Regions from separate parts of the Homo sapiens genome. Here region 2 is linked to region 1. Evidence: fine-mapped expression QTL. Tissue or cell type: aorta. Region 1 holds a variant in brackets; the other region holds the start of a gene. All regions are shown on one strand. Distances are from middle to middle.

Region 1 (8,105 bases):
AAAGATGATTAGATCAGGGAAACCATTCAAAAAAAAAAAACAGCAAAAGCCTGCCCCTGCCTCCATTATGCTCCATTATGCCTCAGTATGCTGTTTTTACAAAGCCATCAGACAAATGGATATGAGTGAAACTTGAGAGAGTTACTGAGTGGGGTTTTTTTTAAGCCAGAGCTATATGCTAGGCTAGGCCCTAGAGATACAACATGATTCAGACATATGGTTCATGCCCTGAGAAGCTCACAGTCTGATGGGGTAAACATACAATTACACAGTGTCATATTCTTAAGTGCTTCCTTATAGAACAAAGCCATGTAGCAATCTTATTTAACTCGTGAATCTGGGAAGGCCTCCTGGAGGAGATCCAATAGAACATGGCCTTGAAGGCTGGGCAAGTTTATAAAAAGCAAGAAGACTGCTCTGAGACAGAAAGCATGTTCAGGCCAAAGGATTAGGATTAACTAAACATGCTTCCCCATGCCTATTCCTATTTACAGGTAGTAATGTTTCATTTTCGTCTATCTACCCATTCCTTTGAGGCCTGAAAATCATCAGTGTATAATATTAAACAGCCAGCACCTCCTGTAGAGTGAGCCCTCTGTTAGGTGCTGTGAGGGAGATGTGACCCCTATTCCCCAGGAATCAAATTTGCCTTCAGTTCCTAATTTTCTCCTCTCAAATAATCTTGCAAACATGTATCATTTACTGGGTCTATTTATTAATTGATTCACTCCCATTCCATCCCAAAAATAATTTGAGATGACTAGTAGCTTCTGTTTATTAAGTGGTTATATATTCACCACACAGTGTATGCCCATTTCTTTCGTGTATTCTCTACTGTAACCTTATGAAGTGGGTGGTGTTGATTACACTGTACAGATCAATAGGCTCAGAGAGGATGGTTTGCTTATGATCACAAAGTTAACAAGTGACAACAGAGATTCGAACCCAAGATTGACCGGCTCCAAAGCCTATGCTCTTTCCAACATACCTTGCTGCTTCTATTTTCTGTGTAAATCTTCCCTGCCTTATCATATGGGTGATAGATATTTCCTTGCTTTTATTTTCGAAGTAAAATAGGTAGTTTTAATAACTGTCATCAAATAGGTAAATAAGTGGATTCTCATTTTGATTTTTAATATAGGTAGTTACTGAAGTAACTGGAAGCATGAACATGCCCACCAGGACTCCCAGCTCCCAACGATTCCTGAGCATGAGCAGATAGTCTCTGAAAGCATTTCCACAGATGTATCCACAACTATAGATTAGATTCTGGTCCTCTGATATTAGAATAAAGTACTAAAAATTGTACCGCCTTGAATATAGTCTCACTGAATCTTGGGTGGACTAATTTTCTTTATGGTTTGTTCAGAGTCTGATTGCCATAGTGCTTCTGAAGCTAAAGGCTAGTGTGGGAAATTTGAGGGGTCTGTGGCCCTACCTTGTAATAAGAGTGATATGTGTTGCTGTTCAGATCTGCAGACTATCACCAGGGATTCGCAAGCAGCTTTGAGTTCTCACCGAGCCAGGAGTAGAAGCAACAAGGCCACCACCCTCCCAGATGCTCAGGACACAGAAGCACTGCAAGAACGATGCACAATGCCAGATGAGCCATTGGTAAGAGCTCCAGATAAAGGCACAGATTCCCCATCACCCCCTCCTCTCGAAGAGACTTCAAATGGAGGAAGAATGCTCCATGAGTCCCTGAGGCATGCAGTACCCATTACAAGGATGCAGAGCAGTGAAGACACTGAGGCAGGCCCAGCCTACAGTGATGAGGACTATGAAGAAGACATCATTGAGCCCAGGACCTTAAATGAGATCACCACGGTGACAGACAAAACTAGCCCTTGGTCTAGTGTCATATCAGACACAAGTGAGGTCATCAGCCCTCAGCCTGACGAGGTGCAGAGGGAAGGCCCCTCTTGTCCTTCTCCAGGGCCTTTCTGCAGAGAGGAGCTTATGGTCAAAAGTAGCTTTCTCTCCAGCCCAGAAAGGGCTGTCAACCCCCACCTGCCTAGGCAGGGTTCTCCTAGCCAAAGTCTTGTTGCTTGTGAGTGTGAGGCCTCTAAGGCCAGGGTTGGTGGCGAGTCTGCCTCAGCCAACCCTCAGCCCATCCCATGCCCAACACTCTCAGGAGCTCAACAGAGCAGCACGTTTGTTGGATGGAGCTCACCACAGACAGATCAGAACAAGGAGCCCAAGTCAGAGGCCCCAGCTGAGAATGAAGCTGCCACCAGTGAGCTCGGTGACTCTGCTGATAGCTTCAAGAAGTTGCCGCTAAATCTAGCCTCCCAGAGCAGAAGGGAAAACCATAAGGGACCACCCATCGACTCCTCTGACATCAGGCAGAGGCAGGTGACAACTGGATCAGAGACGTCCACAAAGCAGAGCCTCCTGCTGTATCCTTTGGCATTTCCCACAAGTGGTTTGGATGCAGGTACTTAGACTAGCCTAGTGTGAGTGTGAGCAAGTGGCCACCCTCATGGAATGCACTAGGGGGCATGGAAAGACCATTCCTTCAGAAGACCCCACCTGCATGACAGGTGCTACAGTTTTACCATTAACACCAGCCCTCAGAAACATAATGCCTTGAACTGGGTTTAGGCATTCGTAGCACATTAGCCTAGCCTACCCTGATTTATCCAATTCATCTGTTGGGTATTTTACCACCTGAAGGCAAGGCTTGGGATCTAAGGAATGAGACTATTTATCAGTTGAAAGAGAAGCAGAGGGTCTAGAGAAAGAGGAAAGAAAATCACTGCCATTGAGCACTTTATGTACATTTTTCATTCAGTCATCACAAGTCTTTTAGGTAGGTATCATCCCTATTTTGCATATATAAGGAAACTGATGCTCAGTTATTGTGACTTGCCTTTTTTTTTTTTTAAGAGACAGGTTATTCTGTCACCCAAGCTGGAGTACAAGGTTATTACCATACCTCACTGCAGCCTCAGATTCTTATACTCAGGTGATCCTCCCACCTCAGCCTTGCAAGTAGCTAGAACTACAGGTATGCAGCATCACACCCAGCTAATTTTTTTTAAGAGTTGGGGTCTTGCTGTGTCACCCAGGCTGGTCTCAAACTCCTGGCCTCAAGCAATCCTCCTGCCTCACCCTCCCAAAATGCTGCAGTTAGAGCATTTGAGCCACCACGCCTGGCCAGATTAAATTTTTTTAAAAAAGGAAGTGATGGAGCTAAACAGGCACCATGGAGATGGACTTTCCCAAGTCCCCAGTAAGGTACTGTTGATGGGAACAGGGGGCACCTGACATTCCCCACTCCTTCCTTTTAAACACAGACTGGCATGTTATGGGGAAAGGAAACCACTTAGGACCATCTACAGCCTTCACACCTGTAGCCTAACCAGCTGATCAGATCAGCTCACCTGCTATCCCAACAAGCAGGGAATATTGTACGGCTGGCAGGTGAAGCAGGCTGCTTTACTAGACTAGAGATCTTCCTCTACTAGAAGTCAGGGAGCCTGACTTTGACCCTTCTAGACCCACAAAATTATTTTTGTGATTATAGACATATAGTTTAATCTTTATGTGCACGTTTCTTCACCTGTAAAATGGAGGCGGAAATCCCTTACCCACCAAATTATAAGCTCCCCAGGTCAGGGACCTTGTCTTTTTCTGCATCCTCAGGACCTAGCACTACACAGAGAAGGGATTGGTAAATGTAGATTGGATTGAACTATCACAGTTTCACAACATTGTTGAGAAAACCAAATGAGTGGAAACATTTGTACACACCACACAGTATGATTCTTGATGCAGATCAGAGAAAAACCTAGGGGTGGGAGAGTGGGCTCAGGAAAGGATTAAAGCATGCAATGGCTGGAGGCTGAGCTTTGAAAATAGACCTCCTTGTGTGCAGTTCTCCCTGGCCTTGCCCATCCTGGATCCTGGCCCCTAATGTTGCTGCCTTTGCAGTCAGTATTAATTGTGCTCAGAATATGGCCGATGGAGGAGATGCCACATGTGCCCAGACCCTAAGTGCTGCTTTAACTTAGGCCTTCCTGACTATTCTTTCAAAAATAAATCGTGCCAGGCCCTGTGCTGGGTGCCAAGGACAGATTTGAATGAGACCTTACCTCGAGAAGTTCCCATTATGAGATAGGAGACAGTCAAGTAGATAGATACTGACAGTTTATTGTGCCAAGTACTGTGATGAGATGTGGACAGAACGCGAGGGACCATGAGGAGGGAGCTGCCCTAACTCTACTTGGAGCCATCCCAGTAAGAGAGACAGGAGAGCCAGGCCTTAAAGATGAATAGGCATTGTGCAATAGAGACAAGGAAAAGTTCTAGTCAGGACAAACTGTGTGTGCAGAGGCCTCGCTGGGTGAAGGAGGCTGCCTGTGGGCAGTAGTTCACTGTGGCTAGAGTCCAGGGATGAGGGGATGGTGCGAGGTGAGGCAAGGCCTGGATCTTAAAGGACTTCTATACCTGGCTGAGGTACTTGGACTCTATTCTAAAGCAAAGAAACTTCACTTTCCTCATCTGTAAAATGGAGGTGATAATAGTACTTACTGGGTTGTTGTGAAAATGAAAATGAAAATAATCATGTAAACTGCCTAGCACAATACCTGGTACATGAATAGTGTTCACTGTTAAGCAAGAGTGTGGTATGGTCAGATGTACATATGAGAAAAGAAGTCACCCAGTGCCTTGTAGAGAGCAGGTTAAGTAAGGGAAGACTAGAAACAAGGAGGCTAGTTAGGACACTTGCAATAATAACAAGAGATGAAGAAAGTCTGACCTGAAGTATAGACTGCTTTATGATGAAGACGAGGGGAACAGATCTGAGAGGATTAGATAGAGGGGCAGGGGATGAGACAAAGGAAATAGAAAGTGTAATTAGAGGTTTCTGTCACAAGTTACCCGGCAGGTGATATCATTTACTGGATAGGAAACAGCACATAGACAGGTTTGGGAGACGATGCAGATTG[C/T]CGTTTGGGGCATGTGCCTGTAGGACATCCAGGAGGAGATGCAGGAGGAGTGAAGTTGAGGGCTGAGCTCAGCCATAAAGGTAGGCATCTCTGGGAGTCGATGAGGGCAGCAAGAAGAGCCTGGGAAGGGGGAACCAAACACACAGAGGCAGACTCTGAGCATCTCCAGTGTGCAAAGAGAAGCAGGACAGGGCATGCCCACAAAGGAGATGAGGAGAGCTGGTCAGGAGGTGGGAGAAGCAGCGGAGAGAGAGGTGCCGTAGGAGCAGATGCTGCAGAGTTTCAGGACGTCGTGGTCAGCACTGACGCTGCACACAGGTCCGGGAGAATGTGGCTGACATGTATCACTGGTTTTAGTGTTAAGGAGGACCTTACAGTGGTGGGAATGGAAGCCAGACTTCATTAGTCAAAGCAGCTAATGGTGAGGACAGTGAGAACAGACAACTTTTTCACATAAACTGAGGAGATAAGAATAGCTGACATTTATCGAGGCACCATTCTAGGCACTTTACATATATAAATTCATTTAATCCTTAAAACAATAAGTACTAATACATTTAAAAATGGAGAAATTGCGGCACAAAAAGTGAACTTTCCTGAAGTTATCCATCTAGTAAGTGACAGAGAGCTGGGTGGTAACTAGAAGACAATGCAAGGTCAGGGGGTTGTTTGTTTGTTTCCCTAAATGGGAAACTTGAACATTTTTATGAACTGAGGAACAGGAATTTAAAGTTCATGAGGCCAGACATAGTGGTTCACACCTGTAATCCCAGCATTTTGGGAGGCCAAGGTGGGAGGATCACTTGAGGTCAGGAGTTCAAGACCAGCCTGGGTAACATGGCAAAATTCCATCTCTACTAAAAATACAAAAATTAGCCAGGCATGGTGGCATGTGCCTGTAATCCCAGCTACTCTGCAGGCTGAAGTGGAAGAATTACCTGAGCCCAGAAGGTCAAGGCTGCAGTGTGCCATGATCACGCCACTGCACTCCAGCCTGAACAATGGGAGTGAGACCCTGTTTCAAAAAACATAACAAAATAAAAGTTGGTGGGAGAAAGTGCCTGTTGGAGCAGGACCCTAAAGCACACATGAGGCAATGGGCTGGGAAAGAGACTTCCATGCTTCAGAGCCAGCCCTGACACCTCACAGCAAAGTTCTTTCTTCCCCACAGCATCAGCTGGCTGTCTGGCAGTCCCCAGCAGTTTCAGCAACAGCAAATAGATCCTACCTCACCTGGGCCTCTGCAGAAGGCCTGGAGTCAAAGGGTCTTTCCCTTCGGGATCTCCATTCCTCCCCCACCTCTCTACAGAAAAATCAGGGACTTGAACCAAAGCAAGAAATCAATGCATTTCATTCATTCACAAGATATTTATTGAGTACTTACTGTCTCCCAGGTACTATGCTAGGTGACAGGAATATGGTTATGAAAGACAGATCATCTCTGCCTTCTTGAAGTTTAGAGTCTAATGTAGAAGAACGACGATAAAATAGGAAATGTGGTAAGCAAATTGGAGTGAGAACCATACTTATTAAACAGAAACAAAAAATTGGAACATCAAAATAGTCCCCTCTTTACCCCCTTCAGAGTTCAACTAAACTGAATCAGTGATTTGATTCAAAAAATACCTGTAGAACACCATATTCTCAACACAGCACTGAGCACCTCAAGAAGATACGGAGGAGAAGTGCAAGATAACAGTACCTGCCTTCTAGGGCTCACATCCAGATTGGACCAGCTGTACTGGTCCCTGACATGAGGACATGTCCCGTCATGGACAGCCCCTGATGCAGAGCTCTCATTTCTGAATGTGAGCAGAGAAAATAGGCAAGCAGGCCCTCCTTCAGTGCAGGGCACCTAAATGCAGCCTAAGGCACTGCCCCCTGGAGCCACATCCCAATCCCCACATCCCCTGACTGACTTCTAATAGGTCTTTTTCTAACTAGCAGGCCCTTAGGCAAGAATCATTCAACGCCTGCTACCTGCCAGCCTCCTGAGGGGCTTTCAGGAAGTAGAGGTAACAGAAGGAAACTGTCTGTGCCATTGAGAAATTTAGGGAAGATTGAGGAAAATAATCATATCAGACTAAATAATTAAGCATTCTCCTGTGTTGCAGACTGCTCTAGGATGTGAGGAAGGAGGGATCACTGTGGGGCTAAGATTAAGAGAAAGCTTCCTAGAGGAGGCCGGATTTGAACTGATCCATAAAAAACTTATATGTGTTAGGAGTGGGCAAGCCTTCCAGTCAGAGGGAGCCAGCTGAGCAAAGAATTTATGGACAAGAATAGTTGAGGGAAAAACATGAGTGGGGGCAGAGTGAATGGTCAGTGGAGATGCTGGCCTCCACTGCAAGAGGGGTGGACTTCTAGGTATTTTTGTCCCTTAACTACCATTGTAGCCCAGGGCCCATTGTGGTGCCCAACTTCTTTTTGCCTCCCCAGCAGTTGGAGGCTTCCCTGCGGATGCTTTCACTCTCAGCAACTTTGCCACCAGCAGCCACAACAGATCAGGTAAGAGAATGGCCAACTGACCTTTCTTCTATAGAGTCATCATCTCTTCCACAGAAGTGTGCACAGAATGCAGAGCTGCCCCAGGTCATCTTCCTGGAAAGGCTGCAGCAGGGGTCACTCCTCAAGTTTGTACTGAGCATATTCTGTGGGCCCAGCAGTGGGCAGGGAGCTCAGGAAAAGTGAGGAAGAGCAAATATGCAAGAGCAGGGCATTGTCAGCCAAGACTGACATGGGGAAGAAAAAAGCTGTGCAGAAGCATGAAAGCAAGAGGCAGCTAAGAAATGTGTATTGAGTGCTGTGGGAGTCCCCACCAAGCAGGTAGATAGGAGCGGAGATGCAACCTTACGGGAGTACAACAGTAAGATCTGGATGAGGAGAATAATATCAGTCGTACAACTATTTGCCATTTACAAAACACCTCATAACTATTCATTCAGCTGAAGTAGGTGGTTGGAACTCTGGTACAAATCCCACATCTCCTCTTTTCTGCCTTGGCAGAGCACCTGAACTTTCTTGCAAGTACCAAGAAAATAAACAATAATAATAACTGCTTAATAATAACTGCTTTTGAGTACCTACCCTGTATCAGGTGTCATGCTGGATACTGAGCATATAGTAGTAAATAAGACAGACAAATTCCCT
Region 2 (8,105 bases), 920 kb before region 1:
TTTTGTGAGACCTTTTATCTATTTCTGCTACTCATGTTGGGGTTCTCATCACCTTGTCATTCTATTTTTTACCACAGACAGCCCTTTACAAAGAACATTTACTTCTAGTAGATTCCAAAGGACAGGGAACAGAGCTGGGTGCGGTGGCTCATGCCTGTAATTCCAGTACTTTGGGAGGCTGAGGTGGGCAGATCACTTGAGGCCAGGAGTTCACGATTAGTCTGGGCAACACAGTGAGACCTTGTCTCTACCAAAAATAAAAATAAAAATAAAATAAAAAGGGCAGAGGAAACCAAACTAAAAAACCCAAAGAACATTTACCAGCACTATACAATTTGATCCTTACAACAAGCCTATAATATGTATGAATGTCCACAATATTTACATAAGGAAATTTAAATTCAGTAATATCACACAACTTATCCAAGGTCATGTGGCTTTTATTAGGTAGGTGCAAAAGTTATCGTGGTTTTTGCCATTACTTTCAATGGCAAAAACAGCAATTACTTTTGCACCAACCTAATAACATGCGGCACTAGAACTCAAATTTGTCTCTTTTTATTATATATTATACACTACTGTGTATACGGCCTTATTAAGAAGTCTTCTAATTTCTGTCTCTCCAAACCATCTGAATAGTTTTCCTAAAAACCACTTTACACAGTCTCAAAACCCTTCAACAGCTTTCCTCTACTTCAAGCAATCCACGGCCTCCCTAATCAGATGCTATCTACTTGTCACTACAGTTCCTTTAGAGAGCCTTCTAGTCAACTCAATACCTGAGAAACATAAAACACCATCACATCTGTGTAACTTTACTCAAGGAGACTTTTTTACCTGGCATGTCTTTCTTTTCTCCCCCCAAATAAGGTGCCAGTTCCACTTTCAGGAATGAGGCCTTTCCTTCAGGCTCTTACTCTTTTTTTTTTTTTTTTTTTGAGACAGAGTTTCCCTCTTGTTGCCCAGGCTGGACTGCAATGGCGTGATCTCGGCTCACTGCAACCTCCACCTCCCGGGTTCAAGCGATTCTCCTGCCTCAGCCTCCCGAGTAGGTGGGATTACAGGCATGCACCACCACACTTCGCTAATTTTGTATTTTTAGTAGAGATGGGGTTTCTCCATCTTGGTCTGGCTGGTCTTGAACTTCCGACCTCAGGTGATCCGCCTGCCTTGGCCTCTCAAAGTGCTGGGTTTACAGGTGTGAGCCACTGCGCCCGGCCGAGGCTCTTACTCTTATCAATAAGCTCGCAGGGTTCACTCTATTTCTCTCATTTGAACTTCCGTAACAAGTACACACTTGAGCGAATATACCATATACTTCCTTAAATAGATTCAATTACCCCATCTCCTATATTTGGCTATTCTGAGTGCTCTCTGACAGTAGGATTCTTGATTTACTCCTCCACCATCACACATCTGTACTGGACACTACAGGTAATGGAGATCATTAATGTGTACTGTCTTACTTGGTTCTTCCCAAAACCCTGTGATCTAGGTGCCAGAGATTCCAAAATTCCAAATGAAGAAAGGTTAAGTGACTTGCCAATCTTCATACTGTTAGCAAGTAGCAGAAATACTTCAAAGCTGAAATCTTATGATCCCCACATCCGGGTTCTTTCAATAACACAATGGTGCCATATACACTATTCCATAATAATAGTATTCTATACTGCCTTAGCAGAATGCCCATACTTAATGTTTGCTGATGATGATCCAAGTGCAAGGAAGAGCAAGAGCAGTTAGTGGGGCAGGTAAGCACAGGCTATGAGGTGCTTACCTAGCAAGAGGGAAGGATTTGTGTACACAAATGACCATCAATTCCCCATACTCTCACATGTCTTGAAGCAATTTACCATCCCAACCTCCAGAATATGTTTCTGTATCTTAAGGTTTGAGTGTGAGGCCAGGTGCATGGTGACTTATGCCTGTAATCCCAGCACTTTGGGGAGCCAAGGTGGGAGGATCTCTTGAGGCCCAGGAATTTGAGACCAGCCAGGGCAACACAGTAAGACCCTGACTCTACAGAAAAGTTAAAAGCAAAAAAATTAGTCAGGCATAGTGGTGCACATTTGCAGTCCCAGCTACTCAGGAAGCTGGGGTGGGAAGATCACCTAAGCTTAAGAGTTCAAGGCCGCAGTGAGCTAAGATCCATTCTGGGCAATGGAGCGTGACCCCTCTCACAAGAGAAGAGTGTGAGAACCATGTCTTTCAAAACCAATGACACTCAAAAAGACAAGTAAAAAGACCTGGATCTTAACCCCTCAACATAATCATGTTTTCATTTCTTAAGCACCTACCATGTGTTATGCACAGGGAAGTCTGAAAGCTGTTTTCAATTATATTCAAAAATTCTGCTTACTATATTAAAGACACCATGCTTAACAATTCTCATCAAACCAGCCCAGGGCCCTACAATGAGAGAACTGGAAGGGAATTTAGAGTTAAGTCCCTCATTTTAAGGCTAAATCTCTCACTTTGCAGATGAGAAAACAGATATAGAGAGAGCAAGCATATTTCAAGGTCACAAAGCTAATTAGAGGCAAAATCAACACCAGGACGTTGTTCTCCGTGCAACTGTTTCTTCCAAGATGCTGTGCAAAGAGCAAGAAAGGCCAACCCAGGGACAGTTTTCCTTTTTTTCTTTTCTTTTAAACCCTTGTTGCTAGGACTGCAGTTAAAAAAAATTTTTTTGGATGAGCAGAGGGAGGAAAGGGGCAAGCGTGAGCGGGCAGCAGTGCACTTGGTAGCAAAGAGGGAGGTGGAGGGAAGAGAGGAGAGGGCGGGGAAAAACAACAGGAAAAAAAGAAAAATCTTAAAGGCTTCTTGTCAGCCCAGTAGAACAGTCAATACTCAAATATTTTCAGTATTCGCCTATCATGATAAAACGCCTAAAAACTTCAGTAAGCAAAAGGACAAGAAGCACTTTGGAATCTGTAGCAGCACGCAAGGGTGATGGTGGTAGAGAGTTTGGGGGATACTGATTCTTTAATCTTTGGGCTTCGGTTTTCCGTGTCTGTGAAATGGGCACTGACAACAGTGCACCCAGCCCCCCAGGAGAAAAGAGATGGACACGATTAAATATAGGAAAAATCAAATTACCGAAAAAGGTGTGGCGACCAGGACCAGAACACTTGCGAGAAAAGAAGAAGTTCTAAAGAGGACCGGGTCCAGGTTTGAAGTGTGATGAGGGCAAGGGCAGGCTCCAAGCGTGCGTAGGGTTGTGATAGTGGTCACACAAGGGCTCCCCTCAAAAGGCCGTAGAAAATAAGGGAGACCGGGATGGGAAGGTTGGCTCGCCGCCTCCCAGGCCTCCCCAGGATTCAACTGTTCCCAAGAACCGGCTCCTCACCTTATCCAACAAGCCGCTACGGCCACTTCCTGTCCCGCAGTTGGAAGCACCACCAGCCCCACTACAGCCTCCGCTACCACCGCTTCTCCCGCCCTGTACAGCTGCCGCCGCCATCTTGTCCGCCTCTGCGTCTCCCTCCCCTCCGACTTGTCTGAAGCCGATTGGCTGGAGCTGACAGCGTGACGCGCCGCGCGGAGTCAATCGGGATCCGTAGTTTGGGTCTTGCTGGCGCGAGGTAGTCAGAGGACGTGGCCGCGGGGCTTGCTGGGACTTGAGGTTAGACGTCCCGGCCGTCGGTTGCCGCCTACACTGTCTGCCGTCGCGTCGCAGTTACTAAGGCGTGGGGAAGATAGCGGCAGGCACCGCAGTGGAGCGGCTCCGAGATCCCCGGGGGGCTCGCAGGCGCGCATCCCTCCTGACTGGGACGTCGCCTCCGCAGACCCCTCGGAGGCTGAAGCGACGCCGGAGGCAGGTGCGACTGAAACTTAGTTTTCGAATTCGAGTCTTTCTCCGGCCCAGGTGTGGAGTTTCCAAAGGAGTGGGCAGGAGCTTGTCCTTCATCCTTTTCTAGCCCGGTTGTGGCACTTACCGATTATTCTCTCAAGCAGCTGTCATTTTAGCTGTTTGTAATGTTTTCGTGTTAACGGAGAACTCGCGTTTACTGAGTGCCTACAGTCTGCCAGGCAGTATCCTATGTGCACTTCCAGCCATCCTCTCTCTCACTGAGTCCCACAACAGCCCTGTTAGATGAGGAGGAAACTAAAGAACCTACCCAAAGCCAGATAGCATGTATCTGAACTCGGTTTTCAAGCCGGCATTTAAAAAAAATCAAAACCAATATATATCCCTTCTGACACTCTGCTTTTACGGTTTTAGGATGTAATAGTATTCTAGATTTTAATTATTTTTTTCACAAATGTATATTGAGCACCAATATTGTACTAACGGATACAGGGGATCAAGATAGACCTGGTTGCTACTCTGGTGGACTACTACTCCATGACAGAGTTATCAAATAGCAGTATTGTATTATACCATGCTCTATTACGTTGTATTTTAATTAATTTTTTTCACAAATGTATATTGAGCACCAATATTGTACTAACGGATACAGGGGATCAAGATAGACCTGGTTGCTACTCTGGTGGAACTACTACTCCATGACAGAGTTATCAAATAGCAGTATTGTATTATACCATGCTCTATTACGTTGTATTGTTTTTTAATTCCTATATATCCCCCATAAGCGTCTAAAGAATTAAACAAATATTTTTGAGTTTCTTACTATGTAACAGGCACTATTCTAGTCACCAGGGATATATCCCTGAATAAAACAGACAAAAACTTGTCTTGGGGAAGCCAAAATTCATGTGAAAATAATTATCTCGGCCGGGCGTGGGGGCTCATGGTTGTAATCCCCGCCAAGGCAGGCGGATCACCTGAGGTCAGGAGTTAAAGACCAGCCTGGCCAACATGGTGAAACCCCGTCTCTACTAAAAATACAAAAATGAGCCGGGCGTGGTAGCGGGCACCTGTAATCCCAGCTACTTGGGAGGCTGAGGCAGGAGAATTGCTTGAACCGGGGAGGCGGAGGTTGCAGTGAGCCGAGATCAGAAAGAAAAGAAAATAATTATCACTAAATAACTAAATTATTACTAAAAAGAAAATAAATATCACTAAATAGCAATAACATCAGATGATATTTCATTACCTCTGTGAAGCAATCCGTGGACACTAGTCAGATCCCCTGTAGCTTGTTGTTGCAGTTTATCTTTTACAACTTCTCATTTTTCTTTTATTTAAAATAAAGTGAGATGATACAGCATTGCCCTAGTCACTTTTTATTTTATTTTTTATTTTTTGAGACAGAGTCTCACTCTGTCACCCAGGCTGGAGTGCAGTGGTGGGATCTTGGCTCACTGCAACCTCTGCCTCCTGGGTTCAAGCAGTTCTTGTGCCTCAGCCTCCCAAGCTGTAGTCTTTGTAGCTGGGACTACAGGCACATGCCACCACACCTGGCTAATTTTTATATTTTTAGTAGAGACAGGATTTCGCCGTGTTGGACAGCCTAGTCTTGAACTCATGACCTCAAGTGATCCGTCTGCTTCGGCCTCCCAAAGTGCTGGGATTACAGGCATGAACCACCACACCAGGCCAACTTCTCATCTTTCAAGATCCAGCTTTAATGTCACCTACCCTGTGAAACTATTTCTGATACTTGCTTCTTCTTTCTTCACCCACTGCATGAAGTGCTCCTGTGGCATTTTGTTCATGGGTTGGGTTAGTTCAATTAACAATCATTGAGACTCTTCCTTCAGTAGGCCAGGTCCTGTGTGAGATGCAGGATAAAGAGATAAGTACAGGCTCACGCCTGTAATCCCAGCACTTTGGGAGGCCGAGGCGGGCGGATCACGAGGTCAGGAGATCAAGACCATCATGGCTAACATGTTGAAACCCCGTCTCTACTAAAAATACAAAAAATTACCCAGGCATGGTGGCGGGCGCCTGTAGTCCCAGCTTCTAGGGAGGCTGAGGCAGGAGAATGGCGTGAGCCCGGGAGGCGGAGCTTGCAGTGAGCTGAGATAGCGACACTGCACTCCAGCCTGGGTGACAGAGCAAGACTCCGTCTCAAAAAAAAAAAAAAAGAAAAAGAGGTAAGTAGGACCCAGGCCTGACCTGACCTTGGAGATACTCACAGCCTGTAGTGAGGTGGGGAACAAACAAGGAAGCAGGCATTATAATACAGTGTGGTATAGTGCCTGTATTAGTCCATTTTCACACTGCTATAAAGAACTGCTCAAGACTGGGTAATTTATAAAGGAAAGAGGTTTAATTGACTCACGGTTCTGCATGGCTGGGGAGGCCTCAGGAAATTTACAATCATGGCGGAAAGGGAAGAGGCAAGTCTTACATGGCAACAGGCAAGAGAGGGCAAGAGTGTGAAGGAGGAACTGTCAGTTATAAAACCATCAGATCTCGTGAGAGCTCACTCACTATGGTGAGGACAGCATGGGGGACCACCTCCTTGATCCAATCACTTCCTACTAGGTCTCTCTCTCAACACATGGGGATTATGGGGATTACAATTCAAGATGAGATTTGGGTGGGGACACAAAGCCTAACCATGTTAGTGCCTCCATTAAGAAGTGGGCCTGATGGCTGGGCAAGGGGGTTCACGCCTGTAATCCCAACACTTTGAGAGGCTGAGTTGGGAGTTTGAGGCAGCCTGGGCAACATGGTGAAAACCCATCTCTATCAAAAATATAGAAATTTAGCTGGGCATGGTAGCACACGTCTGTGGTCCAGCTACTTGGGAGGCTAAGGTGGGAGGATTGCTTGAGTCTGGGAGGTGGAGGTTGCAGTGAGCTGAGATCATGCCACTGCACTCCAGCCTGGGTAACAGAGTGAGACCTTGTCTCAAGAAAAAAAGAAAAAATAAATAAAAAAAGAAGTGGGCTTGAGGAGGCTCAGCCTAAGGAGAGGGAGATACAGGAAAGCTAATCTGTATGTAGCCGGGCAAGGAAGAGGGGCAGAAATGTGATAGGCCAAAGGAATGGAACAAGCAAAAATATGCCTTACTCTGTGTGTGTGTGTGTGAGAGAGAGAGAAAGAGAGATGTTTGTTTTGGAGGAAGCGCTACAGTCAGATTGGCATTAGCTGCATCAAGTTTGAGATGGAGACCAGAGGTAACTAAAGCTAACCAGGAAGTCAGCCTCCAAATCTGGAACTTTGACTTTTTTTTCTACCATATAAAGATCTTACTTGTCTTAGATAATGTAACCAGGGGTTATGTGCCCTTCTTGGCCCATTAGTTGTAGATCTACACCTTCTCACCTAATATTCCTAATAGGGAACTAGAATTTCTGCGATAGCATCCAGGTCTGCATGCCTCCTACAGGCTTCAGTGTGAGTCATCTTTTGTATTATATGCATGGCAAATATCTTTTCCCAGACTGTGTCTTATCTTTCAACTTTGACTTTCCTATTTTTATCTGGCAGAAATTTATTTTGTGTAAATAATCATGTAAACGATCCCGTCCTTTCAGGTTTGTGCTTCGTGTGTCTGATTTAAGCACTCCAGCCATACCCCACTATCATAATTATATTCTCCTATACCACCTTCCCATCTATGTCTTGTCTTTGTCTCCATCTCTGTATTGGTATCTATCTGTTTCTTGGATCCTTAGTCCTACGGGCAAGGACTAAAGGCAAGACAAATATTGGAGTGGAAGGCTCACAGTAGAATATAATTAATGAGGAAGTTCAAGAGCTCTGAATAGCAGGCTAAGAAGGAATATAATATTTATCTTACAGGCAAAGAAACAAGTGAAGAAACAAAAAAAAAAGGAAGTTAAGGGGCCATTCCCAAAGTCAAAGATCAAGTAAGTACTCTGGAGACCTGAAGCCAGGTCACCATATTCTGTAAGTTACTGAAGGCTTCTCCAACAGCCATCATATTTAACATTTTCCAGCCAGCAAATTACATCACATCTAACATTTTCCAGCCAGCAAGTTACTCATTCATTCTTTCATTTACCTCTAGCAGATGTGTGTGATTGGTCATGAGAGAGAGTTCCTGAAAGACATATTGACTGAATATAAATTTGTCCCCATCCATCCATCTATCCATTAATCTTACCAACATATTTTTAGTGAGTCGTAGGCTCTATGCTACATGCTGGGATTACACAGGTGAATAAGGTAATTATAGGCCCCACAACAGGTGAGAAGTTGATGAGGGGAGCAAACAATTATA

The links. PIP is the estimated chance that this variant, and not a neighbour inherited with it, causes the effect.
Region 2: XRRA1 starts here. The variant in region 1 is fine-mapped to the expression of XRRA1 in aorta (GTEx, PIP 0.97).

What each region holds. Positions count from the first base shown.
Region 1 is chr11:74,027,645-74,035,749 of GRCh38, reverse strand. It overlaps C2CD3 (C2 domain containing 3 centriole elongation regulator), which reads left to right. Exons shown (of 33, transcript NM_001286577.2): 31 at 1,472-2,399; 32 at 7,352-7,463. Among named protein-coding and RNA genes, the nearest start is that of UCP3, 23 kb to the right of the region's middle. The variant C/T (reference allele first, on the strand shown) is at 4,956.
Region 2 is chr11:74,944,644-74,952,748 of GRCh38, reverse strand. It overlaps XRRA1 (X-ray radiation resistance associated 1), which reads left to right and starts at 3,658. Exons shown (of 19, transcript NM_001378157.1): 1 at 3,658-3,821; 2 at 7,664-7,731. It overlaps SPCS2 (signal peptidase complex subunit 2), which reads right to left and starts at 3,483. Exons shown (of 5, transcript NM_014752.3): 1 at 3,350-3,483. The coding sequence starts at 3,463. RefSeq lists enhancers at 3,229-3,278, 2,581-3,435, 3,359-3,578, 3,709-3,768, 3,889-3,938 and 1 more.